Linked DNA regions of Homo sapiens: region 2 is linked to region 1. The links come from fine-mapping of genetic effects on gene expression. A gene starts in region 1. The other region holds a variant in brackets. All regions are shown on one strand. Distances are from middle to middle. Region 1 holds the start of GHDC (GH3 domain containing). Region 2 overlaps KCNH4 (potassium voltage-gated channel subfamily H member 4).

Region 1 (15,028 bases):
TTTCTTTCTTGAGAAGGTTTCACTCTGTCACCCAGGCTGGAGTGCAGTGGGACAATCATAGCTCACTGCAGCATCAAATGCCACGGCTCAAGCAATGCTCTCACCTCAGCCACCCAAGTAGCTGGGACCACACAGATGCATGCCACAATCCCTGGCTAATATTTAAATTTGTTTGTAGAGACTGGGACTCCCAGGCTGGTCTCAAATCCCTGGCTCAAGCCATCCTCCCCCTTCAGCTTCCCAAACTGCTAGGATTACAGGTGTGAGCTACTGTGCCTGACCAAACTCAGTTTCTACCAGAGGCTGATAGAAAGCTTCTACCTCCCCAGCTTTCTCCCTGGCTCAGGCTACCTGGAGGGGAGGAATGTAGTCCCACTCTACAGTCAACACGGAGTGAGCCGCCATGCATTGAAGAACACATGTCATCTCCAGGCCCAAGCTTCTTATTCACAACCTCTTTTTTTTTTTTTTTTTTTTTTTTTTTTTTTTTTTTTTTTGGAGATAGAGTTTCACTCTTGTTGCCAAAGCTAGAGTGCAAAGGCACGATATTGGCTCATTGCAACCTCTGCCTCCTGGGTTCAAGCAATTCTCCTGCCTCAGCCTCCCAAGTAGCTGGGTTTACAGGTGCACACCACCATGCCCAGCTAATTTTTTGTATTTTTAGTAGAAACACAGTTTCACCATGTTGGCCAGGCTGGTCTTGAACTCCTGACCTCAGGTGATCTGACTGCCTCGACCTCCTAAAGTGCTGGGATTACAGGCATGAGCCATGGCACCTGGCCTACAACCTCTTTATTGAGCTCCTGCTGCATGCCACACCAGGCACTGGGCATGGGGGCAATTGTGCACAGGATCTAGCCCAGTTTCCAAGGAACTCATATTCCAGGTGGGAGGCAGTTCAGGCATAATGATAGTTCAGTGAAGGAGAGGACTACTGCCCACATGAGCAAAGCTGAGCCAGTCACTCTGCCTGGGGTGGGCCTGGTAGGGGGTCCTCAAAGGCCTTGCATGAAAGCTAGTTTACATCAGGGGCAGCGGGATAGAGGGCATTACATAGAAGGGACAACTTGAGCAAACTCCTGGAGTTGACAGTGCTTAACAACCCTTAGATGGGAGGTGAGGCGTGGTCCTTAGTCCAGGCCTTCTTTCAAGCAAGGGGAGAGAGGTAGCTGCACATGTAGGTGAGGGCCAAGGTCAAAGGGTCTAATAGGCCAAATTGATTGGTCTTAATCCTGTGGGCGATGGGGGCCACCATGGGAGGTTTTTTTTTTTGTTTTTTTTTCCCGAGATGGTCTCGCTGTGTTGCCCAGGCTGGTCTTGAACTCCTGGGCATGAACCATCCTTCCACCGCAGCCTCTTGAGTAGCTGGGACTATAGGCCCATGCCACTGTGCCCAGCTTCACAGGAAGATTTTAACAGGATGGAGTGACAGGCGGAGGTGGGGGCCGGGTGGGTATGCAGCCAGGACCTGGGTGTGGGACATGGAATGGAGAAGCTATTCAGAGGCATCTGGATCCAGTGCTGCCTCTACTGAGGAGGAGCTGAGGTCTGCCCCTCCCATCAGCCTCCAAGATGGAAAACCTTAAAACTCCAGTCCAGGCAGTGGGAGGGAAGGAAGCCAAAATCTAGCCCAGTTTCTTTCTTTCTTTTATTTTAGCCTCTACAACCTTGTGGAGGCTGCGTTTCCTCATTAGTATGGAACAGTGAACCCAGATGGTCTCCGGAGTTGCTTCCTGCGGCGATGCCTTATGATGTGAAGTAATAGCTCTCCCTTCCCCACCGCAGAAGTGGTTTGTGGGTGCTGGCCTAGGATGTGCCACGAGTCCTCCAAGGCTCCTGTGTGCGCATGCAGCCTTGCCAGGCCCAGAGCAGAATGTTGGGGGAAAGTCCTGGAGCTCAGTGGGGGAATGGCTGGGCCGGGGTCCACTCCCGTTTCCCCAAAGCAGACCCTGAGGCAAGAATCTGGGTGCAAGAGGTTTATTTGGGAGCCATCCCAGGAAGCCCAAGGCGGGGGAGTGGGGAAGAGAGGGAAGGGAGAGCCCCCGCAGGAAGTACATGAATGAGTGGGTTACTGCTGCGGGCAACTGGGACTCCATCCTGCTGGGCATCCTCTGAGAGTTTATGTAGAATACACTTCAGAATTGTCCTGCTCAAGGACAATGAAGCTGAGGTCCTGCTCCTTATTGACTCAGGGTTGCTGCTCCTGGGGACATTAACCCCCCAACACTTCTAGCTTGCCCAGTGCACTGACTGAGCACACAGCTGTGGCCACCAGAGAACCTCTTTGGGCTGTGATACAGGAAACCATCGGTGTGCATGGTAACTCTCTAGCAGTGTCCTTCATGCCGGGACATGGGGACACGGGCAGGCACTGCTGGCATCTGCTAACCCCGGAGGCCCATACTTCAGAACCGGTCAGCTGGGCCAAGGCCTCTCTAAGGCCCAGCGGCTCTCATGGGCAAATGTCAGGTGACACAGAGTCAGAGACCCTGGCCAAGGACTCCCCATCCGGAGAGGTCCCAGAGGGAGGGGCGAGGTGGCCTCTGGGGGGAGCTGGGCGGTGGGGCAGGACTTGACTCAGGACACCACCCTCTCCTGCAGACACTGGGCCAGGTGCCTGTGCCGAAGGACCCGGGGCATCGCAGGGGGGAAGGGGGAGGAGGGGCAGGCAGCGAGGGCTGCCCGGAGTGCTCGGAAGGCTCCCTGCCCCACCAGGTGGACTCTGGCAGGGCCCACGCTGCCCCAGAACCGCAGGGACTTGTAGCGGGGAGAGGCTTCCTGAAGGCAGTGGTCCAGCTGGGAACAGAACAGCCTGAGTGAGCTGGTGTGTGACTGTGAGTGTGCACACGAGGCGTGTGTGGCTGTGCCCAGGCTACATGTGTTTAGAAGTTTTGTGTGGACAGGTGTGTGTCTGTGGGACTTAGCCCTCCCCTCCCAGAGCCCCAGGGAGCTTCTCCTCCGCCACCCCTCTCCTTCCCATCAGCCCTGATCTCCATGGCACCCTGGGAGTGTGCAGAGTGAAGGGGTCTACAGTCAGACCCTGTCCTCGTCTCCTTTACCTTGTCTCGATTTTCCTCTGACAGATTCCTCAGCCCCCTCAGCGCCACAAACACCTCGTAGTGGGGAGCAGAGCCCGCAGAGGAATCTGTGAATAGACCCCATGTGCACACATACTTCCGGTGAATGGGCAGCTGCCAAGTCTAGTGTCCTCTGCCCTATCTGTTCTTCCCCACTCTGAGATTCATAGGGAAAAAAGAGTTTCTTGGTGGGGAGTGGGGTAAATGGAGAGGAACCTAGAGCTTGATCCTAAATAGGAGACAGATCAGGAAAGAAAATGGGTAGAGACTGCAGCAGGATGGATGAGAGTTAGATGCAGAGAAGGACTTTTGTAGGAGTAGTAAAGGAGGCTTATCTCTTTCCTAGCAGTCCCCTGGCAGGGGAGGTAGGAGTTGAAGGGTAGCTCAAGGATGGTAGGCAGGAGCCGGTGGGGAGGCTCACCCAGAATGCTGCTCTCCACACAGCCATGGTCCAGCAGCTTGGCCCCCGCCCACTGCCCCACTGCCCGGCCCAGGGCCTCAGAGAACAGGTCTTCACCAATATCTTCCCCTCGCACACTCAGGGTCTGGTCCAGCCTGAAGAGGAGGAAGGGAGAGGCAGTGGAGCCCAGGACACAAGGATGGCCCTTCAGCTCCCCGGGGTCACCTACCTGCAGATGAACCTGACGACTGGACACTGATTGTAGGCACCAACCACTCGCACCACATCACCCAGGCGGCACCTGATGGGGTGCAAGTGGGAGTGAGGTCGGGCCCAAGGTCTTCTGAGCTCATGCCCCAGGCCCCCAGCACGGTCCCATAGGGCCCCAGGTAGCAGGGGCTGTGCAGCTGATCACCTGGTGAGGCTGGCGCGGTCCGTCAGCACCAGCTCATACTCCTTGCCCTGCTGGGCCTCGGCCAAAAGGAGGGTGGAGGCAGCTTCCTCCTGGGTGCCTTCCTTGACTGGGAGCAGCTCGATAAAGGGGGCCCCAGGGGGCAGAAGGTAGAGCCCATGGGGCTGCTCTGGCTGTAGGTTTAGGCCCAGCACCCCTGTGAAAGCAAAGCAGCCTCCTCAGCGTCTGCTGGTGCCATCGCTTTCTGCCAGGCAATAGCCCCTCCTGGATCCCAGGCCTGATCCTCTGAGCACCTGATCCTCCTGCTGCCCTTCCACCACATCCTTCCTGGCTCCCCCAGCCTCAGCGGGCTGCCTCTTAGGCCCTCACTGGAAAGAGGCAGAGTGCTGTGGTCCTGGAGGGGGCAGACTTGGGAGTGAATCCTGGTGCCACATGAATTTGTGCAAGACTCTTTTTTTTTTTGAGACAGAGTCTCGCTCTGTCACCTAGGCTGGAGTGCAGTGGTGCGATCTCGGCTCAGTGATTCAGTGATTCCTGGGTTCAAGTGATTCTCCTGCCTGAGCCTCCTGAGTAGCTGAGATTACAGGCGCCTGCCACCACACCTGGCTAATTTTTGTATTTTTAGTAGAGACAGGGTTTCACCACATTGGCCAGGCTGGTCTTAAACTCCTAACTTCAGGTGATCCACCCACCTCAGCCTCTCCCAAAGTGCTGGGATTACACCCGTGAGCCACTGCCCCGGCCTTTTTTTTTTTTTTTTTTTTTTGAGACAGGGTCTTGCTCTGTCACCCAGGCTGGAGTGCAATGGCGCGATCTCAGCTCACTATAATTTCTGCCTCCAAGGTTTAAGCAATCCTCCCGCCTCAGCCTCCCAGGTAGCTGGGATTATAGGCGTGCACCACCATACTCCGCTAGTTTTTGTATTTTTAGTAGAGATGGGGTTTCGCCATGTTGGCCAGGCTGGTCTGGAACTCCTGACCTCAACGATCCATCCACCTTGGCCTCCCAAAGTGCTGGGATTACAGGCGTGAGCCACTGCACCCAGCTACAAGACTCTTAACCTAGAGAGCCTGAATTTCTTCACTTGTAAAAGGAGGCTGCTGGCCCTAGCATGCAGCTTGTTGGGGAGGATTAAATGAGATGATTATGTAGGGCCCAATGCATGGCTGCTTGTCATGTGACCACTGACCGTTGCCCCCACCTCACTGCCCTTGAGTCCCACTGACCTCCCGAGGCAGCATAAGCAGGAGAGAAGAAGGCTAGTCCTTGGCACCACAAGGCCCCGAGGGCAGCCACAGCCTCGGCCTGGCCTCCTGCATCCAGAGTCACCACCACCTGCAGCTTTGGCCAGAGCCGAAGGGCCAGTCCCCGTGGCCCCTGCTCTAGGGCCTCCCGGAGCTCAGCTGCCCGTTCACGGAGAGGCGCTCCAGGGTTCCCGGCAGCTATCGCCCCAGCTAGCTCTTCACCATCAGTCTCCAGGCCCAAGAAAACATCCAGAAGTTCGACAGCCGTCCCAGCCTCCAGTGCCCTCAGCCCTGGGGACCTCAGTGCGTCCAGCAGCAGGGCCCTAGGGTCCTTGGTTCCAGGGGTGCCCACCTGGCCCAGGGTATTCCCAGGCCAAGGCAGGGGTCGGGGCCAAGGGGATGTAAGCGTCACACGGGCAGTGCGTCCCTGAGCCAGCACTTCTGGGTAGGCCTTGTTTAGGGCTGCCAGACCCAGCAAGGTGGCCTGGAGGAGGAAAGAGAGAATGTTGGTCTGGTGTCAGAGCCAGACCCAGAGCCCCCATTTGGGGGTTCTTTGCCCACCATGACTGGAGGGTTTGGCTGCAAGTCAGAGGTCTCTGGTGGGACTGGGCTGTGGCCAGGACTGGGCTCTGGCCATCCTAGATTACCTGCAGAGAGGCCTCCCCAAGGTCCTGGTTTGAGGTCGGGGGCAGTGGCTGCTCTCCACTGTCTTCCTGCTGGGTCTGGCTGGCCTTGGTCAGAGGGAGATGATTCCGGAAGGTGCTTATGTCTATAGCCCCAATGACAACAGAAACGCCTCAGGAAGCCAGTTTCCCAAGAGTTTCAGGCAAGACTGGTGAGACCCTTGAGGGAGGAACCGAGAATAGGCCTGGGGTAGAGAGGATGTAAGGACCCAGCATGGGAAATTCATCTTGGACAAGAAAGCCAGTCCTGGGTCTCTGGGTCAGGCCACTCCGTTGGCAGTGGAGGAGGTAAGGGGGCCATCAGGCTCTGGAATCTGACGGTCCTGTGGGGTTTCTTTCTCTTTGGGTCACCTCCCCAGACCCTGGGAAACACACCTGTGCTCCTTCTGAGGGAACAGTGGGGGCGCTGGGCTCCCTGTAGACACCACCTCAGGGCCTGCTGCTGGCTCTGGTGCACATGGAGCGTGCTCTGCTCCAGCCTCCGCCGCTGCCAGGTGGCTGCCCAGACCAGGGCCCCCCATGCCACTCGGTGCTGGAGGCCAGCAAGCCAGGACAGCCTGGCATCCTGGGACCGCTGCTGCCTGAGCAGGGCCAATGTTGGCAGCAGCAGCAGCAGCAGCAGCAGTGGCCACAGCAGCATCTCCAAGCAGCTCCTGGGAAGAGGAAGGAACCGAGATATGGGGGCATGCAGCAATTATCCATTTCTCCTCCCACGCTCTACTGCATACAGGAAAACCGAGGAAAAATGAAATTGGGAAGAAGGCAGGACCCTGTGGGGCAGGTGATGCAAAGGAGAGACTATCAAAGCTTTGGAGTCCCACTGACCTGAGTGCAGATCCTGCCTCTGCCGCTTGTTAGCTGTAGGGCCCTGAGCAATTTAGTGGGCTGCACTGAGCTCTGTTTCCTGATCTGCAAAATGGGAATAAGAATAAGAATGCCTCTTTCAGAAGGTAGGGGTGGGCCGGGTGAGGTGGCTATCATCTGTAATCCCAGCACTTTGGGAGGCTGAGGCAGGAGAATCACTTGAGCCCAGGAGTTTGCAACCGGCCTGAGCAACATAGGGAGACTCCATCTCTACAAAAAATTGAAAAACTAGCCCAGCGTGGTGTCACACCCATAGTCGCAGCTACTTGGGAGGCTGAGATGGGAGGATCCCTTGAGCCCAGGATGTCAAGGCTACAGTGAGCCAAGATCGTGCCACTGCACCCCAGCTTGGGCAACAGAGTGAGACCCTGTCAAAAAAAAAAAGAAAAGAAAAAAAAGGGAGAAAAGAAGGAAGAGGAAGGGAAGGTACAGGAAGGGTTTCGGACAGGGTCGGTCGGGCACACAGCAGCTGCGTAACGATATCTCTTGCCCACTCCCGAGTGGCTTTGCTTTCTCTCGGGATCCACCCTGTCCCAGCTCCTTGTCCCTCCTGAGCCCCAGGCTGTGGGGTCCATGCCCACATGCACCTGTCACAGCCCACTTCTGCCTACTCCTGGCACGTGACGGAGACCCCTGGGTGACTCTGGGTCTCAGCACACATCCGGCCAGAAAGAAGGAGCGATGGCTTTAAAAGGCTGGGCCCCAACTGGGAAATCCGGCCACCAGGCCTGAGGGAGGAGCTGAAGGAGGGGGGTGCTCTTAAAGGGGCAGGTCGCCTACAGGACTTCATGTCGGGTGCTAGCCCAGGCTGGCAGTTGGGGCAGTTAGGACCAGACTAGCATGGTCCTCAAACTTGCGCAGGTGAAGGAACAGAAAGGTGTGTGTGGGAAAGAACGCCATTAAGCCACTTGAGCTGGGAGAGGGGCAAGCTTAAGAACTCTTAAAACCCCAACTCAGCTGGGCGCGGTGGCTCACGCCTGTATTCCCAACACTTTGGGAGGCTGAGGCGGGTGGATCATCTGAGGTCAGGAGTTTGACACCAGCCTGACCAACATGGTGAAACCCCATCTCTACTAAAAATACAAAATTAGCCAGATGTGGTGGCACATGCCTGTAATCCCAGCTACTTGGGAGGCTGAGGCAGAAGAATCACTTGAACTTGGGAGGCGGAGGTTGCAGTGAGCTGAGATTGCGCCATTGTACTCCAGCCTGGGCAATGAGCGAAACTCCGTCTCAAAAACAAACAAAACAAAAACAACAACAAAAAAAACCCCATCCTCTCCCTCAAGGTAGTTGAGAAAGAAAACAATTTTATTATTGAATAAGCATTCAACCACAATGTGATGTACATGACAGGTGATCTGCTAAGAGCTTGCAAAGAAGGGAGGAAATCTTACTTTTTTGTATAGCCAAGCGCATACAACCCATTACATACACGTTTTCAAGATAAACAATAACGAGTCCTCAAGTAAGAGGACTTGTCACATATAGTTTATCTTTTTTTTTTTTTTTTTTTTTTGAGACACAGTCTTGCTCTGTTGCCCAGGCTGGAGTGCAGTGGCACAATCTCAGCTCACTGCAACCTCCACTTCCCAGGTTCAAGCGATTCTGCTGCCCCAGCCTCCCAAGCAGCTGGGATTACAGGTGTGTGCCACCACGCCCAGCTAATTTTTGTATTTTCAGTAGAGATGGGGTTTCACCATGTTGGCCAGGCTGGTCTCAAACTCTTGACCTCAAGTGATCTACCCTCCTTGGCCTCCCAAAGTGCTGGGATTACAGGTGTGAGCCACCACACCCAGCCAGTCACATAGTTTATCTTAACTTTACATGGTTATTAGGTGAACATCTGTGTTAGCTTGCTGGCTTTATCCCAAGGAAAATTACAAACTTCTTTTTTTTTGTTTTTTTGGCAGAGTTCTATTCTTGTTGCCCAGGCTGGAGTGCAATGGCACGATCTTAGCTCACTGCAACCTCCGCCTCCCAGATTCAAGCAATTCTCCTGCCTCAGCCTCCCGAGTAGCTGGGATTACAGGCACGCATCACCACACCCAGCTAATTTTTTGTATTTTTAGTAGAGACGGGGTTTCACCATGTCACCATGTTGGCCAGGCTGGTCTCAAACTCCTGACCTCAAGTGATCCACCTGCCTCGGCCTCCCAAAGTGCTGGGATTACAGGCCTGAGCCACTGCACCCAGCCAGTCACATATAGTTTATCTTAACTTTACCTGGTTACTGGGTGACCATCTGTGTTAGCCTGTTGCCTTTATCCCAAGGAAAATTACAAACTTCTCTTTTTTTGTTTTTTGTTTTTGAGACAGGGTCTTGATCTATTGCCCAGGCTGGAGTGCAGTGGTGCGATCATAGCTCACTGCAACCTCAACCTCCTGGGCTCAAGAGATCCTCCTGTCTCAGCCTCCCAAGGGACTGGAACTACAGGTACGCACCACTACGCTCAACTAATTTTATTTTTTGTAGAGACGAGAGAGCTCCCTATGTTGCCCAGGCTGGTGTGTTCTTGACCTAGGCTCTCAAAACACTAAAACCACTCCCTTTCTCCCCTTACTTGCCTCTGGATACCTTTGAGAAGAGAGCTACTACTTGCTGAGCACCTCTCTTCCCTTCACAGCTGAGCTTCTTTCAACAGGTCTGTTCTCACTCTGGCTAACTCACCTCACTTTCACGTTTTTTCTCGCTGAGATCTTGCATTTGCTTTTATTATTTATTTAAAGACAGGGTCTTGCTCTGTTGTCCAGGCTGGAGTTCAGTGGCCTGGTCACAGCTCATTGCAACCTTGAACTCCGGGGATCAAGCAATCCTCCTACCCCAGCCTCTGAGTGGCTAGGACTACAGGCATGTGCCACCACACCCAGCTAATTAAAAACATTTTTTTTTTTTTTTTGTAGAGACAGGGGGTCTTACTATGTTGCCCAGACTGGTCTGGAACTCCCGGTCTCAGCGATCCTCCTACCTTGGCCTTCCAAAGTGCTGGAATTACAGGTGTAAGCCACTAGACCTGGCCCAGTAACAGCTTTATTAGATATAATTCACACACCATACAAATCACCCATTTAGTGTACAATTCAAGATCTAGTATATCCAGAGATATGTGCAACCAACACCACAGATAATAACATTTTCCTTACCTCAAAAACAAACCCTGCAGAGTCTCTCTGAGCCTACTGTGCCTCAGGAGACTGCCCAATTCGTTAAATAAAATAAAATAAAATAAAATAAAATAAAATAAAATAAAATAAAATAAAAAACCCCAAACTCAGGCTGGGCGTGGTGGCTCACACCTATAATCCCAGCACTTTGGGAGGCCAAGGCAGGTGGATCACCTGAAGTCAGGAGTTCAAGACCAGCCTGGCCAACATGGCAAAACACTGTCTCTACTAAAAATACAAAAATTAGCAGGGTCTGGTGGCCGGCGCCTATAATCCCAGCTACTTGGGAGGCTGAGGTGGGAGAATCGCTTGAAACTGGGAGGCAGTGGTTGTAGTGAGCCGAGATGGCGCCACTGCACTCCAGTCTGGGTGACAGAGCGAGACTCTGTCTCAAGAAAAACAAACAAAAAAAAAAACAAAACAAAAAAACCCCCAAACCCTGTATCCTTTCACTATTACCTCCAAACTCCTTCCCAGCCTCTAGGCAACCTCAAATTTACTTTCTGTCTCCATAGATTTGCCTATCCTAGACATTTCCTATAAATGGCATCATATAATATGCGGTCTTTTGTACTTGGCTTCTTTTCTTTTTCCTCGCTCTGTCACCCAGGCTGGAGTGCAGTAGCATGATCACAGCTCAAGTGATCCTCCCACCTCAGCCTCCTGAGTAGGTGGGACTACAGGGGTGCACCACCACATCCAGCTAATTTTTGTATTTTTTTGTAGAGATGGGGTTTCACCGTGTTGTCCAAGCTGGTCTTGAACTGCTGCACTCAAGTGATCCCTCGCCTCAGCCTCCCAAAGTGCTGGAGTCCCAGTCATGAGCCACCGTGCCCGGCCTGGCTTCTTTCATCTAGCATGATATTGTCAAGGTTCATCCGTGACAACATCATGTCCTGTGTGTCAGCACTTCATTCCTTTTTATTGCCGTATATTCCATTGTACAGATATACCATAATACATTTTGTTTATTCATCAGTTGATGGACATTTGGGTTGTTTCTGCCCTTTGGCTATTATGCATAATGCTGTTATGAACATTTGTCACAAGTGTTTCTGTACATATATGTTCTCATGGTTCTTATGTAGATACCTACAAGTGGAATGGCTGGGTTTTTTGTTTTTTTTTAATTTGAGACAGAGTCTTGCTCTGTTGTCCAGGCTGGAATGCAATGGCATGATCTCGGCTCACTGCAATCTCTGCCTGCCGGGTTCAAGCGATTCTCCTGCCTCAGCCTCCCAAGTAGCTGGGATTACAGGCGCGTGCCACCACGCCCAGCTAATTTTTGTGTATTTTTAGTAGAGACGGGGTTTCATCATGTTGGCCAGACTGGTCTCGAACTCCCGACCTCAGGTGATCCACCTGCCTTGGCGTCCCAAAATGCTGGGATTACAGGCATGAGCCACCGTGCCCGGCCCTATTTGTTCCTTAAGAGCCAGCTCCAGGCTGGGCATGGTGGTTCACGCCTGTAATCCCAGCATTTTGGGAGGCCAAGGCAGGTGGATCACCTGAGGTCAGGAGGTCCAGACCAGCCTGGCCAACATGGTGAAACCCCGTCCCTACTAAAAATGCAAAAATTAGCCGGGAGTGGTGGCGCCTGTAATCCCAGCTACTCAATTAAAATAAAAAAATAAAATAAAAAAAAAGCTTGAGTTGCTCAGTGGCCTTCCTGCATGTTCTTTTGCATAATGACTTTGGGATGCCTTGATTGCAGCAGGAAGCGATATCCTAGCATAATCAGTTGTGGTAGCTGCCTTTCTCCAACTGTGAGCCTCTGCAGGGAAGGCACCATTTCTCATCCCACACACAACGCTGAACTCAGGGTCAGGTACTCTAAATGTGCTGAATCTTAAGGACAGGCTTTCAGCCGGGCGTAGTGGCTCACGCCTGTAATCCCAGCACTTTGGGAGGCTGAGGTGGGCAGATCATGAGGTCAGGAGATCGAGACCATCCTGGCTAACAAGCTTTCTGGAGTCAGGAGGCTAGGAGACCATCATTCTTATTTTCAAAACATCATATGAGCAGGAAGGTATGAAAGGCCCCATCTGCCATCAGAGCTAATGACGTGCCCTCTGAGGCAGCCAACTCCCAACCACCCAACCAGTTCCCTTTTTCAGGGTCACGCTGATGACTTGAAACTTTTCCGTGTTCAAGCTGCCCTCCCTTGGCATGTGACAGAAAAAAGTAAAAACAGGACTCAATACCATCCCTTCAGAGGAAGGCTTTATTGTAACATAAAATACACAACTTTGTGACTGTAACTCTGCATAGGATATATTTCTTTTTTTTGAGGCAGAGTCAAATTTGAGGCCCCAAATTGTACACAATACTTTTTTTTGGTGGCTAAATAACTAATCTGCCTTGACACTAAAATATGTATCTGAAATAATTTCACCAAGTTTTAAAAAGAAAAATTATAAAAAGTATACTTTCATTTTAAGTTATATTCGATTTTAGTCTCCCCCTACCCCCTAGAAAAAACCTGCACATCTCACACACGGAGCTGAAACTTTTGAGGACTTGTGTGTGTCTGGGAGTGGGTGAGAGGCTGATGGGGTCGAGACACACCACTACCTTTATCTTGTGGTTTGCAGGAACAAGGAGGAGAGAGAAGATAGAACGCAGAGAGCGAGCACACCTTTCATCAAAAATCTCCACTCTCTAGGCACAGCCTCGGTAACACCGAGGACAGCTCACAACTGGACAAGCAGGGAAACCCCAGCTCAGGGAAGCCACACTCATCAGCTCTCTTCCTCCCCAACCCAGTGCCAACTGCAAAGTGAGCCAGGACGGCCTGGCTGCTCTGTCCTCAGCAGGCCCTGGGGTGGGTCCACTCCCAACCTGAAAGTGTATCAAGTCTGACCCCCCAACCAGGGTTGCTGGAACAGAGAGCGAGGTCTCAGAGGCAGGTGCTGGTGAAGCATCTCTGGGAGACGGGCAGGGAGTGACTCTACGAGCCTGGATCCCTGAGCAGGCAGGCTCTCCTTCTCACCCTTCCCCGATGCACCCATCCTCATGGTTGGAATTTTCATCAAATCTTGAGGGGTAGGGAGGGGCTGAGTGGGATGCGGGTAGCCTGCTCCTCAGAGGCAGAGAGACTCTACTGCCTGGCATAGAAAAATAAATCAGTGTATGAAACCAAGCCAAGGCAAACGGCAGCTTTAAAAAAGTCATCTTCCAATAAATAATTTACTATAGAGGAATATTTTTAACGGCAAAACACTGATAAATTCAGAAGTTATTTTTGTAAAAAAAATATGTTTATTTACTCTCATGTATAAAAATAAGGTTTTTGGGGCCATCCTCTCCTGGGGGTGCCCATGCCCTTCTTTTGGAGAGGGGGCCGAGGGGTGACCTTTTAGGCCTTACCCGTAAGCTATTTTAATACACCTGCTCACCCCCCTCTTCCTCCACTACCTGCTGTAGCCCATTCCTTCCTTCTGGTGTAAAGCTACAGAAGAAGTCGTGGAACAAAATTATACCGAGGCTTTTTTTGTTTTGTTTTATACTTTTATCAAACTCCCCAGCAAACTTGCTGACTGCATTTCCACACATTACCAACACCTGCCAGGACTTCACAGCAGGGTGACCCGCTAAGCAAGCTGGCCTAGGTTCAGCCCACACTGCTGCTACCTACTCTTCAAGACATTAGGTGTGAACAGAGAAGGGGAATGAGGTGACCTGGGTTTGAATGACCCAGGGCCCAATGCACAAGAGAGAATTTTGATGTCAAATTAGGGTGGCAAGGAGAAAACAAAAAAGATCCAACTTAGAAACAGAACCATGATTCAACATTTGCAAAAAGCATCATCAATAAGCCTGAAGAAGGCCACGGACTGTGCATCCGCTGGCTCAGAGAAAGGCTGGGCAGCCGGAACAGCAGCTTCCTGGGTAACCAGGCAACAATCTCAGCGCCTGGGAGTCAGGGCTGCGCACTCCACTCTGGCCAGAACACAAACGGCATTGGCACTGTAAGCTCTCAGTTACGTGGCCCTCTTTTCTCTCCTCTATTTCTCCAAACATATGTGCACACCCAGAGGAACTGAGTGGCAATTCCAGGGTGCGGGCGGGCAGGAGGGGAGAGAGGACAAAGAGAGAATAAGATGAGCTAAATGTTTTGTGAAAAGCCACCGCCCATCCGAAAGCTTGTGACTTCCCTTGCCCCAACAATCTTTGTAGGTTGCCCCTTTTCCCATTCCTACCCAAGAACACAGGGGTGGGGGAGAGGGAAGGCTCTCTTTGTCAAAAAGCAGTTATCTACATTTCAGAAGAAAAGCAGAGACAATCACGGTTATATATCAATTGCTTGGCAGACAGAGTGACGAAGACTCACTGGAGCACATGTGCTTTCTCCTCCCTTTGTCCTTCTCTTATTCAAACAGCCACATGTCAAAGTCCAGCCACTCTTAAGACACATGGCCAACTTCCAGGCTTCACGAAACTCACTGCCTTTTTGCACAAAGTAAAAACCACCACAGCTTCTGTCTGTGGCCCCTCTGCTACAACTAAACTCTCAGACAGTGAGAGGGAGAAACACCATAACGTGCAAACACGCACACACACACACACACACACACACACACAAACACATACTCGCACTCCCTTCGCTGGTGCCACCATGCACAGAAACACTAAGGTCACAACTAGTATTAACACTTCACATTATGAGTATTGTTTCAAAAGAGAAGCGATTCATGGAATTAAAACATCCACAAGAGTGATTCCTCTGGTGAAGATGAAGAAGCTGAAGATGGAGAGGTCGCGGGGTCACGATTGTGCGTGCGGGATCCACTGACTGTCCATTGGCCGGCCCAGGAGCTCCTCCACACGCCGCGCTACGTCCATTGTGTCCTCCAGATCGAAGTCCCCATCGGTGTCAAGGACTGAGTCAGGGCTTGGGAGGGAAAGAAGAGGGATGAAGGGAAGGGGAAAGCCTGCCAGAGACCACCCCAAGCCCCACAGGCCACCAGGGGAGCAGTCTGAGCCAGCCTATGCCCTCAGCCTGGGGCTTCATGGGAAAAGAACAACCATTCAAACAGCTGGCTGTACAGCAACTCAGACTGAAATACCCTCCCCTGTTACCTCTCACACCGGCTGTCCAGACACATCACAACTCCACTCAGTCCTTAGAGCAAGAAAAATCTCCATATTGAGAGAGGGGAACAGATGACATTTGCCCAACC
Region 2 (15,028 bases), 22 kb before region 1:
GTAGTGTCAGCGGGGTTGGAAGGTATGAAGCAGGTAAGGGGCAATGGAGGAGGGTGCCTGGGCTTCAGGCATGTGTTTTTAGGGTGGAGGGAGGTTCATGGGACTCTCAGGCTGGGGAGGTCTGCTTTGGAGGAAGGGACTCTGGAAGGATGGCGGTCATCAGGGGTGTACATACACTGGTGTCAGAGCCCTGGCGCAGGTTGAAGGTGAGGTCCCGGGGCAGGCCAGCCCGGAAGGCAGCCCCATACTCAGGATAGAGCCTCAGGACCTCAGCCAGCCCTCGGCTGCTCAGCTGCTGCAGGCCACAGTAGGTCAGAGCTTTCACATCAGCACTGGTCTTTAGCACGAAGTTTGGGTCTGCTCCCAACCCAGGCTCCTGCCCCGGCTCAGGGATATCTGCTCCAATCAGGTCCCCCTTCCCTGTAGGTAAGGGATGGGGACAGTCAGCTGGGGCAGTGAGAACGAAAGGATATCAGCTGGAGGTGCTCAGTGGATTTGAGGGGTGGTCAGTGTGTTTGAAGGATGGTTGAAGGTGGGCCAGTCAATGGGATTGGTGGAAATAACCAATGGAATTGGGAAAAGGTCAGTGCAGAATGACTGGTAAGGCTGGGAGACAGTCAGTGGGAGTGAGTAGGGCCAGAGGAACGATCAGTGGAATTGGGTGATAAAAATCACAATGGCCGGAGGGGTCAGGTCAGTTAGAGGGTAAAAGTGAATGGAGTTTAGGGTCACTGGGGAAAGGTCAATGGGGTTGGGAAGTGGAGCAATGGGAAAGGATCAATTGAGCTGGGGGACAGTCACCGGGAAGGGTTGATGGGTTGAGGGATGCCCAAGGGGATTAGGGGGAATTGTCTAAAGGCGATGGTCGTAGGGCGGAGGGACCGAGAGAGTACTCCTCAGCAGGAACTGTAGGTATCCACGAGGGGTATCCCATTCCCTAGAATCCTGGCCATTCCCAAGTCCTCAGTGGGGGTTGCGGGGGGTGGTTCCAGGGTAGGTAGTAGAGGGTGACGGTGTCCTTACCCAGGATGGCCAGCACCATGTTGTCTCGGAGCACCTCAAGCGAGCCGGAGCAGACATAGTAATGTGCCTGCAGGGCATCCCCACGGCGCAACAGGTACTCGCCCGGAGCGCAGAACGAGGTCTTGATGTGCAGCGATAGGGCCCGCAGGCAGCCCCTGCTCGCTGCCCCGAACAACGGCAGCTGCAGGATCTCCCGATTCAGGTGCATAGCAATGTCAGCTCTCAGCTCGTCTGGGAAGTCACGCAGTAACTGCATAAGGGGCATAGGTCATTCTGGCCATCCCCCTGCAGCTACTACTTGAGTCTACAAATGTGCTGAGCTGTCTTCAAAGAGAGAATTCCTCTTGCCCTTGCTTTGAAGTCACCCATTCCAGACCTTCAGTACAACCTCTGTGTCTAACCTCAATTTTGCTTGCTGCATGTACCTCACAACCCAATTTCAGGGGCAGAGACCAGGTCTTCTCCCATCAGTTCCCTGCCTGTGGCTACATGCTGGTCACTTAACCCCATCGTTCAGAAGCCATCACTTGGGGGTCAGCCTTCAACTGGGAGTCAGGAGACCAGGAGTCAGCTCGGCTCCTAAGTCCCTGTGGACCTTGGGCAACCCATTTCCGCTCGCTGGGCCTCAGTATCCCAGTCTGTATCTCAGTCTGTAAAATGCAGAGTTGTTATTAGACCATGGGCACTACCAATGACCTCTTATGGCCACACTGCATGTTCACATCCTCATATGGAGCCCCTTGGCCACCCTGGCTTGTTGAACTCTCCCCTTGGTCCCCCTGGGCTCCTGTGAAGGGTTCCCTCCTGGTTCCTCCCACTGCTTACTTCCTCATTTCCTCTCAGGCTCCTCTTCCTCAGCCAACACCCTGGACTCTCACTTTCCACACTCTCCCTGCATCATGGCAACTGGCCCCATGGCTTCCCTACTACCTGAGTGCCCTGAGCCCTAACTCTGGGTCCAGACCTGATTTCTTTTTTCTTTTTTTTTGAGGCAGAGTCTCACTCTGTTACCCAAGCTGGAGTGCAGTGGCACGATCTCAGCTCACTGCAACCTCCGCCTCCCAGGTTCAAGTAATTCTCCTGCCTCAGCCTCCCGAGTAGGTGGGATTACAAGCACGCACCACTACGCCCAGCTAATTTTGTATTTTTAGTAGAGACGGGGTTTCACCATGTTGGCCAGGCTGGTCTCAAACTCCCAGCCTCAGGTGATCTGCCCGCCTCAGCCTCCCAAAGTGCTGGGATTACAGGTATGAGCCACCGCACCCAGCCAAGAGCTGATTCCCATCTACCTACCGGGCAGCCTCTCTCTGGACCTCCCCCAGGCACTATACCCTCCTCTTGGTCTGACCCGGGACTCTCACCTTCATCCCAAAGCCCATCTTCCCCCTGTTATGCCTCCATCCCCACCCTTGGCCTAAGCCAGAAAACTGGGAGTCACTCTGAGCTCCTCTCTTGCAACCAGCAGGAGATTACCACGTCCCACAGATCCCATCCTCAGAGATACCTCACCAACCCATTCCCTCCAAGATCCCCACACCACTCCCCAGTCTAAACATTAAGCAGGATAAAATCTAAATTCTAGGCCATCCCTGAGCTGGGCCTGCTGCCTCCCAGCCCATGTCGTGCCTTCCTGCCCTGCCTTCTCCCTCCGCAGCACTCACATGCCCATTCCTGCGGGCTTATTGAGCCGCTTTCAGTTCCCTAAAGCGCTCACTCTGCTCTTTTGTGCCATCACTTCTGGCCTGTGTCCCTAAGGCCATTTCTACCTGGCATTGCCACCTTCCTTGACTCCTCCCCACCCAGGCACAATGAGGACCTGAAGGCACCGACATCCCTCCTTTACAGCCCCATTCAGCGCGGCACTCTCTGTTCATCTTTCTGCCTCCCTCAATACTCTGGGTCTCCCTGAGGGCCAGGGCTAAGTGTCATCATCTCTAAGCTCTCTGTGCCCAGCACCAAGGCTGGCCCAAAGCAGGCACTCAGGAAATGTTGGCAGAAGGGAGAGTCGCATCAGCTGGGCCCTGAGCTCTTTCATTCCCTTATTCAAGTGCAAAGAAACAAGAATTTGGCCGGCTGTGGTGGTGCACGCCTGTAATCCCAGCAAATTGGGAGGCTGAAGCAGGTGTATTACGATGTCAAGAGTTCGAGACAAGCCTGACCAACATGGTGAAACCCCGTCTCTACTAAGAATACAAAAATCAGCCGAGCATGGTGGCAGGTGCCTGTGATCCCAGATACTCAGGAAGCTGAGGCAGAAGAATTCCTTGAACCTGGGAGGCAGAGGTTGCAGTGAGCTGAGAGCACACCACTGCACTCCAGCGTGGGCGACAGAGCAAGACTCCTTCTTGAAAAAAGAAAAAAAGAAAAGAAGCAAGAATTTGTATTTTGGGCAAATGTGTGCCCTTGTGAACAATACCTCACCCCCCGGGCCCTGTTTGCCTCCCTTTTATTTTATTTATTTATTTTTTTATTTTTATTTTTATTTTTATTTTTGAGACAGAGTCTCGCTCTGCCGCCCAGGCTGGAGTGCAGTGGCACAATTTCGGCTCACTGCAAGCTCCGCCTCCCGGGTTCATGCCATTCTCCTGCATCAGCCTCCTGAGTAGCTGGGACTATAGGTGCACGCTGCCATGCCCGGCTAATTTTTTGTATTTTTAGTAGAGATGGGGTTTCACCGTGTTAGCCAGGATGGTCTCGATCTCCTGACCTTGTGATCCGCCCACCTCGGCCTCCCAAAGTGCTGGGATTACAGGTGTGAGCCACTGCGCTCAGCGCCTCCATTTTATTTATTTATTTTTTTTGAGACAGAGTCTAGCTCTGTCACCCAGGCTGGAGTGCAGTGGCATGATCTTGGCTCACTGCAGCCTCTGCCTCCCTGGTTCAAGTGATTCTCGTGCCTCAGTCTCCCTAGTAGCTGGGATTACAGGCGTGCACCACCACAGCTGGCTAATTTTCATATTTTTAGCAGAGACAGGGTTTCACCATGTCGCCCAGGCTGGTCTTCAACTCCTGACCTCAAGTGACCTGCCCGCCTCAGCCTCCCAAAGTGCTGGGATTACAGGTGTGAGCAGCCGAGTTCGGCCTGCCTCCATTTTAAGCTACAGGGGCAGCGACTCCTTCCCCACCCCACTGCAGGGCCACGCGGAGGGCAAGGGCAAGATTGGAGACCCTGCAGGCTACCTCGTTGGCGTCGATGCCGCTGTTGACGGCCCACGTGGTCTGGAAGTATTCGAGCATGCGCTGCTTGAGCGGCCGCGGCAGGCGGTGCACACGGATGAAGTCCTTGAGGTCCTTCATGCGGCTGTGGTAGAGCGAGCGGCGCGAGTACATGCGCTGGATGATGGCTGTCACGTTCCCGAACACCACAGCGTGCATCAGGGCTGCAGCAGCAGCAGCGGGCCTGTCAGGGGCGGCCACCCCTCTGGCCACCTCCCCAGCTCCCAAACCCACCCTGTCCTGGACCAAGAGCCAGCGGGCTCCTGTGTGCCTACCAGGTGCCAGGCACTAGACTAAGGGTGGGGAATAGGGAGTGGTCCAGAGATGGGTAACACCCCATGCTCCTCTCAGGCCTCCCCACCATTAGGTCATGAACCTGGGTTTCCCATCCCCTTTGCAAAAGTCCACGCCTGTTTGTGGCATCCCCAGGGCCAGCACATAGTGGGCACTCAGGAAACGTCCGTGAATGAATGCGTGACTGTCTGGACTTGGGTAGACACCTCGGGCAGATGTCTTGCCCTCTCTGGGCCTCAGTTTCCCCGTGCATGCTGGGCTTCGCAGGGCCCCACTGAGGCGTGGCAGGTCTGGCCTCACCGCCTATGAGCATCGTGCAGATGGAGAAGATCTTCTCCGCGTCGGTGTTGGCACACACGTTGCCAAAGCCCACACTGGTGAGGCTGCTTAGAGTGAAGTACAGTGCCGCGATGTAGGCGCTGCGCCGTGATGGGCCGCCCACCGAGCCATTGACATAGGGCACCTCCAGACGCTTGCCCAACTCATGCAACCAGCCTGCAGGGTGGACGGATGCAGGGAGCCCTGGCTGTGCCAGCGGTGGAGAACCAGGGTTCCCTGAGCCACCTACGCTTGACCTTCGGCAAGTATTTATACACAGGTTGGCACAGGAAATGTGGGGAGTGGCCTGGGCCTGTGTCTCCCCATGGTGCATTGGTTACAGTTGCATTCCAAGGCCGCCAACTAACTACATTGCTGAGTGTTCAAAGGCTCCTGAAACTTTCTAATAGTTTATTGTGCACCTGCTGTATACAAAGTGTTGGGGAATTGACCCAGCCAAACACTCTCCCTGCCCTGGTGGAACCTATAGCCTGGAGGGGAAAGAGACATGACATAAATCATTACAGGTGGGAGGTGAGCTCCTGGAAGGAAAGTATTGTATAGGGTGTGTTAGGAATCCTAACAGGTTAGGGAAAGCCAACCCATTGGCAGTTGGGGGTTCTGGACATGGTGCCTGGAAGGCATGCTCCTTAGGACAGGACATTTTGGTTGAGACACATGGAACCGAAGGAACATTGTTCCAAGTGAGGCAGGGAACGGAAAATCCATCTAGGTGGAGAGGGAAGACAAAAGAGGAGGATTCCAGAGAGGAAAAGAACATGTTCCAGGCCCAGCATGAGAAAGCAGTATGTCCTGGGTCCAGGGGAGAGGCTGGTGTGGCTGCAGCGCAGGGAGCACGGGAGAACGGGAAGGCAGGTGGGGAGAGAAGGGGCACAGGGCCGCCCAGGGTGTGCAGTGAGTGTGGACTTCATTTGGAGGGCAGTGGGAAGCCACTGAAGGAATCCCAGAAGGAGTGTAGTGGGTCAACGTTGAATCCTGGAACACCCATTTGGCTGTGGTGAGGATGGTGGTTGTGGGGGGGATGAGAAGGGGATTGGGAAATCAGTAGGGAGGCTATTGCACAGGCCTGGGTGAGAAAGGGAGGTGGAGTGGACTGGGAAGGGGCAGAGAGGATGGAGAGAAAAGGTCAAATTCACGGGACATTTGAGAGGTGGTATTGATGTGGTGGGCTAGGTGTGGGGTAAAGGAAAGGGAGGTGTCAGGGACCATGCCCGGGATCTGACAGGCCTTTCAGAGGGATTCCAAGGGCCTGGGGCTGTCTCCTGGCTCATGGCCATGAAGCTTGGAGAAGAAGGGATTGATGGGGGCAGAGATGCTAAGCTCTTTCTGGGACTTTTCACGTGCTGCTCCTTCTGCCTGAAACACACCCCTCCACCCTCAGAGTGTTTCCTGCGTTGTACTTTGATCACTATCACTGGTCTTGCTCCCCCACTAGGCTGTGAGTTCCCCCCAACCTGCCCCCAAAACAGAGCCCTTGTCTGCAAATCAATATTCCCATGCTTGATCCAGAAAGAGCTCAACGCATGTTTGTTGGATGGATAGAGGAATGTGGGATGAGGGGTGTGGGTACTGGTGGAGGCATCAGCTTGGGGATGGGACAGGTGGACAGGTGGTCTGTGAAAGTTTGGGGTCGGTGGCTCACCAATGTCCCAGAGCAGCGGGTCATTGGCCTCCATCTCCCGGCGCCCGATGACATACCAGATGCAGGCCATCCAGTGGGCAAGGAGCGCAAAGACCGACATGAGCAGCGTGAGCACCACAGCACTGCACTGAGAGTACCGCTCCAGCTTCTGCAGCAGCCGCAGCAGCCGCAACAGCCGCACTGTCTTCAGTAGGTGCACCAGCGAGGTCTGCAGGAAGGTGGCGGGGGAGGCTGTCAGCAGGCACACCTCCTCCGAGCCCTCAGAGTCCCCTCCCAGGGCCTTCCCACCAGACAACCTGGAGCCAGGGCAGGCTGCAACAGGAAAGACATCTTTGCTGTCCTGAGAAAGTGGCCAAGGAATGCAGCAGCAAGGGAATAATAACAATAAAACAAACAGTGGCTAACACTTTGTAATTACTTTTTTTTTTTTTTTTGAGGTAGAGTCTCGCTCTGTAGCCAGGCTGGAGTGCAGTGGCGAGATCTCAGCTCACTGCAACCTCTGCCTCCCAGGTTCAAGCGATTCAAGGCTGCCTCAGCCTCCCTCCCCAGCTAATTTTTGTATTTGTAGTAGAGACAGGGTTTCACTACATTGGCCAGGATGGTCTCGATCTCCTGACCCCGTGATCCACCTGCCTCGGCCTCCCAAAGTGCTGGGATTACAAGCGTGAGCCACTGCACCCGGCCTTAGTAAGTACGTTCTATGTGCTTAGCCAGGCACTGTGCTAAGCATTGGTAATCCTTATTTAACAACACACACACACACACACACACACACACACACACACACACACACACTTATACCTTTAGTTCAATTATCATCATTCCTAATTTGCAGATGAATGAACTGAGGTTCAGGGAGGCTAATGACTTGTTCAAGGTCACAGACCAAGGACACGATAGAGTTGGAACTCAGGGTGGGCATCTGGGCTGACTGACACCACAGTCCACCTTGTGCTCTACAGCCACTAAGCACTGGGAGATGGTAGGGGAGCCGGCCCTAGTCAGAGTCAGGGGATAGGCAACAGTCTCTGCAGAGCCCCAGTAGCGACGGCAGCAATTGTGATGGGGACCCCCCTTTAAGACATGGAGAAGCATAGTGGAGTGGGGACAGGCAAGGACTTGAGGGCTGGGGGAGGTTTATGGACACTTCTTCTTGTGGATCGGCTGCAGATGAAGAGTCAAGCAGAAGAGTTGAGGGGGCAGGAGAGCAGGGACTGAGGGAGGCTGGGCTGTGCTAGGGGTTGACGGAGATAATGGTACCTGGTAAGTGTCCCATATTCACTAATATTACCCCAAGTACCATCTGCATTGTGGTTATCAATATTGATTAGCCCTTCAATCTTGGAGATGGGCAGGGCTTATCTTCTGGGTGGGAGCAGCCTGGCAGCTAGGACTGGAGGCTCTGGGGCAGTGCCTGGGGAACTTGGTATGAAAGCCCCTCATTGCCCCTTCCTGGGCCTCCAGGAACATTCCCCACAGCCCTGGCCCTACACTGCTCCTGGACCACCTCGTGCAATTTTTCTCTAATTTTAGGTGAAGGAACTGGAAAGGAGGTGGCTCTGATTCCTCCATATGGACCCTCGCCAGGGTTTAATGCCTACCCCCAGCTCCCAGAGCCCTTGACTGCAAGCTTGAGTTCTTCAGGGCTTCCCTCAGTCAGCTGCCCTTGGGCCACTCTCTTGGGGATACTCCTGTCATTCTCCTTGGACTAGAATATCCAGGCCTGGCTCCTTCAAGTCTGCAGCTCTGCCAGTGCCTGCTCATCTTCTG[T/C]CTCTGCTCTACCTCTCTCTGGCCCCCAGTGGTATTCCTCATCTCACCAGACCATCCACTCAGGGGCCCTGGTTACCTGGGAAGCAGGGTGGTATGTTGGAAAAAATACTAGACTGGAAGTTTAGCGATCTGGTTCTTTTTTTTTTTTTTTTTTTTTTTTTTTTTGAGACAGAGTCCCTGTCGCCCAGGCTGGAGTGCAGTGGCGCAATCTCGGCTCACTGAAAGCTCTGCCTCCCGGGTTCAGACCATTCTCCTGCCTCAGCCTCCCAAGTAACTGGGACTACAGGCACCTGCCACCACGCCTGGCTAATTTTTTTTGTATTTTTAGTAGAGACAGGATTTCACCATGTTAGCCAGGATGGTCTTGATCTCCTGACCTCGTGATCCGCCCGCCTGGGCCTCCCAAAGTGCTGGGATTACAGGGTGATCCACTGCGCCCGGCCAAGCTGGAGTGCAGTGGAGCTATCTTGGCTCACTGCAACCTCCACCTCTGGGACTCAAGCAATTCTTGTACCTCATCCTCCCGAGTAGCTGGGACTACAGGTACGTGCCAGCACACCCGGCTAATTTTTTGTGTTTTAGTAGAGAAGGGGTTTCACCTGTTGCCCAGGGTGGAGAGACCTGGTTCTAATATCCTGCCTGCCCCTGCTAGGTATGTGACCTTCAGCAAGTCACTGAACCTCTCTGAGCCTCTGTACCTACCTCTGAAAAAGGATAAGCCTCTGCCCTGAAGGGTTCCCGTGGGGCTCCCATGTGATGATGAGTGTGAAAGAACATAGGGAACTGTAACGTGCTCCCAAAGGGACCTGAGAGGAGGGGCAGGGGGCTCTCTGTAGTGTCCCACTCCCCAGCTGATGGTGCCTGGTGGGCATAGAGGGGTGGGCGCACCCCTGGGGAGGGGTAGGGAGATCTGCTCAGAATGGTCAGAGCCTCGAGGCAGACGTACACACATGCACGTGTGTGGGAGCACGCACACACGTGTGCACAGCCAGGAGAGGAGGCCCACAGCCCGTTGGCGGCTAGTTAAATTCGGCTGCGTGTAGGTGGTTTCCTGCTATAGCTGAGTGCAGGGAGAGAGCACACAAGGAAACTGCTCCCCACTTGCCCGCCCCACACCCAAGGGGGCCTGGGGACACGGGGTAGCACTGCCCCACCCTGGACTTGAGAAGACCTACTATCTGCTGGCTGGGGCCACAGATGACCACTCAGGGCACCTCCAGAGTGTCCCCAGGGATCTGTGAGGACTCAGGTCCTGGCATTCTTTGCCTCTGAATTCACCCCACAGCCTCTACCTTCTTGTCTAGGTTTACTATGCTCCCCCAAATGCTTGCTGTCCTCATCTCCTTCCAGCTAAATCCTACTCACCCTTTAAGGTCTAGCTATACCATCTCCGCCTCCCTCAGGAAACCTTCCCAGACCCCTCCAGCCTCTGCCCAACAAGGGCGCTTTTGCTTCCCAGGTGCTGGCCAGACTTCAGATCATTTTTACACACACTCATGTTCCAGCCTGGAACTCCAAGGTCAGCCCAGCCCCTCTGTAGCATACCCGGGCCCCATCTTCCACCCCCATTCACCTCTTCTGTCCCTGATGTGCTCTGTGGCATTCCTGCCCCCTCACCAGTTTGGCTGTTTAGAGGCTGAATCCTTGTTCCCTTTCCCCACAGTGGCCATGCCCCACACAGTGCTTTGCAGACAGCTAAATGCTCATCAGTTGTTTGTTAAATAAAAATGTGAAAAGTACCACTCATTTGGCATCAGACCAATGCCGCCTTGGTAGCCATAGTTAGCTTTTCATTTGTCTCAGCTTCCCTCAAAGATTGTGAGCTGAGCTCCCCAGGATCACAGACCCTCGGGATCCTCCCAGTACCTAGCACAGGGCTATGCCCAGAGCAGGTGCCTGATAAATATCTGCAGATGGATTGATGGGAAGGGGCATATCTGGGTTTGGGGTCAGTCCCTTCCTGGAAGATGCTGTGCTGAAGTTGGGAGGTTGGACTGGATGGCGGGATGGAGGTCACTCACCACGGTGATGTTGAAGATGTAAAGCAGGTCAAAGGGCAGAGCAGCAATAAGGTCGATGAAGAACCAGGTGGCCAGGTAGTGGAGGCCAATGGAACGAGGAGCAGAGATTACCTGGCCGGACTGGGACACATAGGTGGTGCGGAAGTTCAGGATGATATCTGGGGGTGCAAGAGGCTATTACTGGGGGGCCTTGGCAAAGGGGTCAAGAAACCGACAAAGCTGGGAACAAGCTTTGGAGACTGGAGGAGGAGGCAGGCATGGAGAGATAGATTGGGCTTCTGGCTGGTCCTTAGGGAGGATAGGTTACAAGGCTGAAGGCTGCGGGGAGCAGGACACATGGGCCATTGGGACTTAAAGATGCAGAAAGGAAGGGGCTCTGAATGTCTGGGTCATGTGGGCCCCAGGAGTGGGTGAGGCTTGGCCAAGTGGATCCCCCCAGCCGACCCACCAGGGTGGGTGAGGCAGAAGGTCTGACCTAGGATGAAGAGCATTTCCACGGCGATGTCGCTGACAAGGGTGTGTCGCGAAGTGATGGGGGTGTCATCGTCACCCGAGAAACAGACATTGTAGGGGACGGTGACCGCAACGTAGAAGGTGGCAAGGAGGATAAGGCCGTCCCAGATGGCCTTGGAGACGCTGTAGTGGAGGAGGAGGCAGCGAGACCCCCCCACGGAGGCCACCTTGTACTCGGGCACTGATGGCTTTGGCTCAAACACGTTCTAAGGGGAGAGGGGTGGCGGTTGGGGACACTTGAGGGAAAGAGGAGCCAAGATGGGGGGTGGGAAAGGCAGGGGATGGGGAAAGTTAGCAGGTGGGCACTGCAAGGGCACTTTTGACCATGAATGAAAGGAGATAGAAGGCCAGGAGAGGGGCGCAGAGGCTGACACCTGACATTTTCTTCTCCTGCCAAGTATTTCCCAGGCCCTCCTCCTTTTTTTTTTTTTTTTTTTTTTTTTTTTTTTTGAGATAGGGTCTTGCTCTTTACCCAGGCTGGAGTGCAAGGGCATGATCTTGGCTCACTGCAACCTCCACCTCCTGGGTTCAAGTGATTCTCCTGCCACAGCCTCCCAAACAGCTGGGACTACGGGAACATGCCACCACACCTGACTAATTTTTGTATTTTTAGTAGAGATGGGGTTTCGCCATGTTGGCCAGGCTGGTCTTGAACTCCTGACCTCAGGTGATCCACCCACCTCAGCCTCCCAAAGTGCTAGGATTACAGGTGTGAGCCACTGTGCCCGGCCCCAGGCCCCTGTTTGAACCAATCATGTCTTGTCAAGGGTATTTATGAGGCTTGACATTCACCCAACTTGATTTTTACATTTTTAAGTTTAGAGACAGTCTCACTCTGTGCCCAGGCTGGAGTGCAGTGGCACCATCATAACTCACTGCAGCCTTAAACTCCTGGGCTCAAGCTATCCTCCTGCCTCAGGCTCCAGAGTAGCTGGGACCACAGGCATGCACCACCATAGCCAGATAATTTTTTTTTTTTGAGAGTTTCACTCTTGTTGCCCAGGCTGGAGTGCAATGGTGCAATCTCGGCTCACCGCAACCTCCACCTCCCGGGTTCAAGTGATTCTTCTGCTTCAGCCTTCCAAGTAGCTGGGATTACAGGCATGTGCCACCATACCCATCTAACTTTGTATTTTTAGTAGAGATGGGGTTTCTCCATGTTGGTCAGGCTGGTCTTGAACTCCCGACCTCAGGTGATCCGCCTGCCTCAGCCTCCCAAAGTGCTGGGATTACAGGCATCAGCCACTGCGCCTGGCCTCCAGATAATTTTTAATTTTTTTTTTTTTTTTTAGAAAAGGGGTCTCACTATGTTGCCCAGGCTGGTCTAGAACTCCTGGCCTCAAGCAATCCTCCTGCCTTGGCCTCCCAAAGTGCTGGGATTACAGGCATGAGCCACTGTGCCTGGCCCAACACTCATCCTACTTGAGAAGAAGACTATGACAAATCGGCACATGCCCTAGCTTGAGGGGTACCTAACTTCTCCCTTAAGTTCCTCTTGGGTTCTGGGGGCCCAGTGGGGGCTGGGTATATCCCAGCAGGGAGCAGAGGCTGGCATAGCCCACCGCATTCCCTGTATCCCTAACAGAGGGTTGGGGACTCAATCCCCTGGCTTGGTCAGGATCCTAGGAGGTGGTACACAGGTCTAGATGCCAGGCCTGCAATGAGGGCTTTCTCCCTAGAACTATAGCAGCTTGCAATTTCACCACCCATGGTATAACCCTATCACCCCCGGGCAGGTGAGGTCATTGCTGCTAGAGCAATGTGACATCATCGGAGCAAAGTAATGTCAATCACCTAAGGGAATGAGGGAGATAGGGATAGAAGGATGTTGGGGGAGGATATAGGATGGAGCATATACCATATAGAGTAGTATATGGGAAATGGGTGGGCAGAGGAGCAAGCCAAGGAGGGACACCAGACAGACAGGGAAGTGGGGAGACAGTGGCAGGGGTGCCTCAGAATCAAGGCTGGAGGACTTGGGAGATGTTGGGTTGGGGGTGGGACTCACATTATTGGCCTTCATGCCTCCCTGGCCCCGGCGGCCAAAGTGGCCGGTCAGTCGGTGTAGGACAGTACGGCTCCGTCTTCTGGCAGACCGAAATTTCCAGGTGGCTCCCCTTCTACCAAGGGAGTTTTCTGTTGGGAAGAAAGGTGCAGAGATACGTTGGGGCACATCCCTTGCGGCTGGTTAGGCGAAGGCTTCTGACCATTCACACTGCCCGTCCGGACTTGCTGTTACCGTGATTACTGTCCCCGCGGCCTCCTTGGGGGCCAAGTCCTGGGCTTCCACTCTGAGTGATATCCTTGAAGGAAAAGAGGAACAGCACGACCTCCCCCATCTCATTCTTGATGGGCATCATGTCCAGGAGGCACCAAAAGGCTGAGCCTGTAGGCATGGAGAGAGGGAAGGGAGGAGCATGGGCAGCCCCATGGCATGCCTTTCTCCTCATCCCTCTCATCCTCCTAGACATAGTTAAGAGCTTGGCAAAGCAAGAACCAAAAGGAACCTCAGAGATTCTGTCAGCCGATTCCTTCATCTTTCAAATGGGGGAACCCAGGACCAGAGAGGTCAGGGATACGCTCCGTCACAGTCAGCTTTTGGCAGTGTGGGGACAAGCACTCAGACTCCTACTGTGCCCAGTGCCCTCTGGATAAGGCTAGGGGTCTAGGCAGAGCTGCAGGGTGGGGTGAGCCCCCTCACCATCCTTGCGGTAGAAGCAGATTTCAGCCCGGTGCTCCTGGTGGCCCTCCAGGGCTTTGTGCAGACGCTGCAGGGCTGGCTCACTGGTCTCTGGGCCGTAGAGGAAACGGCAGCTGCAGGTCTTCTGCATGACCTCGGTGCGACCGTAGCCTGTGAGCTCGCAGAAGCCGTCGGAGCAGTAGACGATGGGAAAGCCCCGTGTGCCCTGTGCGTTGGCCAGCAGGAAGTTGCTGTCTGTGGGAAGAAGAGGTCAAGGTCAGGTCAAGGCTGGGAGGCGAGCTAGCTTCCAGGTGGGCAGCACTTCCTCTAAGTTGGGGTTAGAAGTCACAGAGCCAGAAGCTTCCCAGGTTTCCATGTTGCTCCTGACCCCACTTTGGGATATTCTGAATTGAGAATTGGAGAAGTTGGAGCAAAGAGACAAGGACTTGAGACAGGACTTAAGCAGGGTCTAACGGGGAGTTGGAGAAGGACCCCAGGAGGTCATGCCATCCATCCCCCTGCCTTCCAACTGGTGAGCTGTCACTGTAGAAGGCAGTATAGCATGGTGAGTAAGAGCCTGGGCTCCTGCAACCCTCCACTGCCACTTACTAACTGTGTGACCTTGGGCAAGTTGATGACCTCTTCTGTGCCTAAGCTTTCCTTATTTGCAAAGTAGGGCATAATAGGCCTTCCTCACATGGTCGTTGTGAGAGTTACATGAGTTAACTTGGGGAGAACAAGTCCTAGCACATGGTAAGTGCTACTCTGAGAAGGTGAAATTTTTTCCCCACATTCACTTGGCTTTCTTCCTATTACAGAGTAAGCAGGGCAGAGATTCTGATGACACCACACCCATTTATTGATAGGAAACCAAAAGGCAGAGATTATCCAAACTCACAGATCTCCTTAGTGTGGGGGCAGACAGTGATGAGTGCTGTCTTCCTTCCCTGCCTTCCAGAGAAGGTCCACTTTTTAGCATTCTTGTAGCTGCTTTCAGGGGATCTGCCCCACTGCTCAAAGTCTAATGGGAGAGGGCATTGAGCGTATAGCTCCAGCAACCCCCAGCAGCAGAACCCGAGCTGTCTCCCTCCAGCTCCAATGGGTGGGAGGCCAGGGGGACTCCTGTGGGCCATCCAGGGACAGAGACTCAGCTAAGAGATGGGGCCTGTGACACAACCAGTCCTGGTGCTCTAGGAGGGATGACTGTCTGGGGGCAGGGAGGCTGATGGGGACACTGAAGGTGCCTGGGAGGCACTGGGCTCTGGGCACAGCCTCCTTCTTCCATCCCAGGGCCTGTTGCCCCGGTGATGGGCGCTATGGAAACAAGGTGGTGGGGAAGAGGGTAGGGCCCGGCGGCTCAGTTTCCGCCCTCGGGTACCGCTCCCCCACCATCCAGATCCCGGCCAGGGTTCCCGAGGGAATGGCGGGGTTGGGGGAGGTGAGGGCGGGGAATCTCTGGGTTCCAGAGTGGGAAGAGGGAATGGCGGGAGAAGAGGCGGGGGAGGAGTGATGTGGCTGTCCAAGGTGCTG

Evidence for each region.
Region 2: its variant is fine-mapped to the expression of GHDC in whole blood (TOPMed, PIP 0.98).

Annotation. Positions count from the first base shown.
Region 1 is chr17:42,187,126-42,202,153 of GRCh38, forward strand. GHDC (GH3 domain containing) reads right to left here and starts at 7,369. Exons shown (of 10, transcript NM_032484.5): 1 at 7,268-7,369; 2 at 6,642-6,725; 3 at 6,192-6,469; 4 at 5,781-5,902; 5 at 5,116-5,617; 6 at 3,893-4,085; 7 at 3,707-3,778; 8 at 3,499-3,632; 9 at 3,060-3,145; 10 at 1,962-2,796. The coding sequence starts at 6,456. The coding sequence ends at 2,578. It overlaps STAT5B (signal transducer and activator of transcription 5B), which reads right to left. Exons shown (of 19, transcript NM_012448.4): 19 at 12,052-14,739. The coding sequence ends at 14,613. RefSeq lists enhancers at 5,857-6,387, 7,282-7,511.
Region 2 is chr17:42,165,274-42,180,301 of GRCh38, forward strand. KCNH4 (potassium voltage-gated channel subfamily H member 4) reads right to left here. Exons shown (of 17, transcript NM_012285.3): 2 at 13,520-13,753; 3 at 13,058-13,204; 4 at 12,827-12,954; 5 at 10,781-11,024; 6 at 10,306-10,463; 7 at 6,515-6,722; 8 at 4,834-5,028; 9 at 4,204-4,403; 10 at 1,024-1,273; 11 at 176-420. Among named protein-coding and RNA genes, the nearest start is that of KCNH4, 8.4 kb to the right of the region's middle. RefSeq lists a silencer at 4,618-4,912 and enhancers at 13,110-13,611, 14,262-14,829. The variant T/C (reference allele first, on the strand shown) is at 8,285.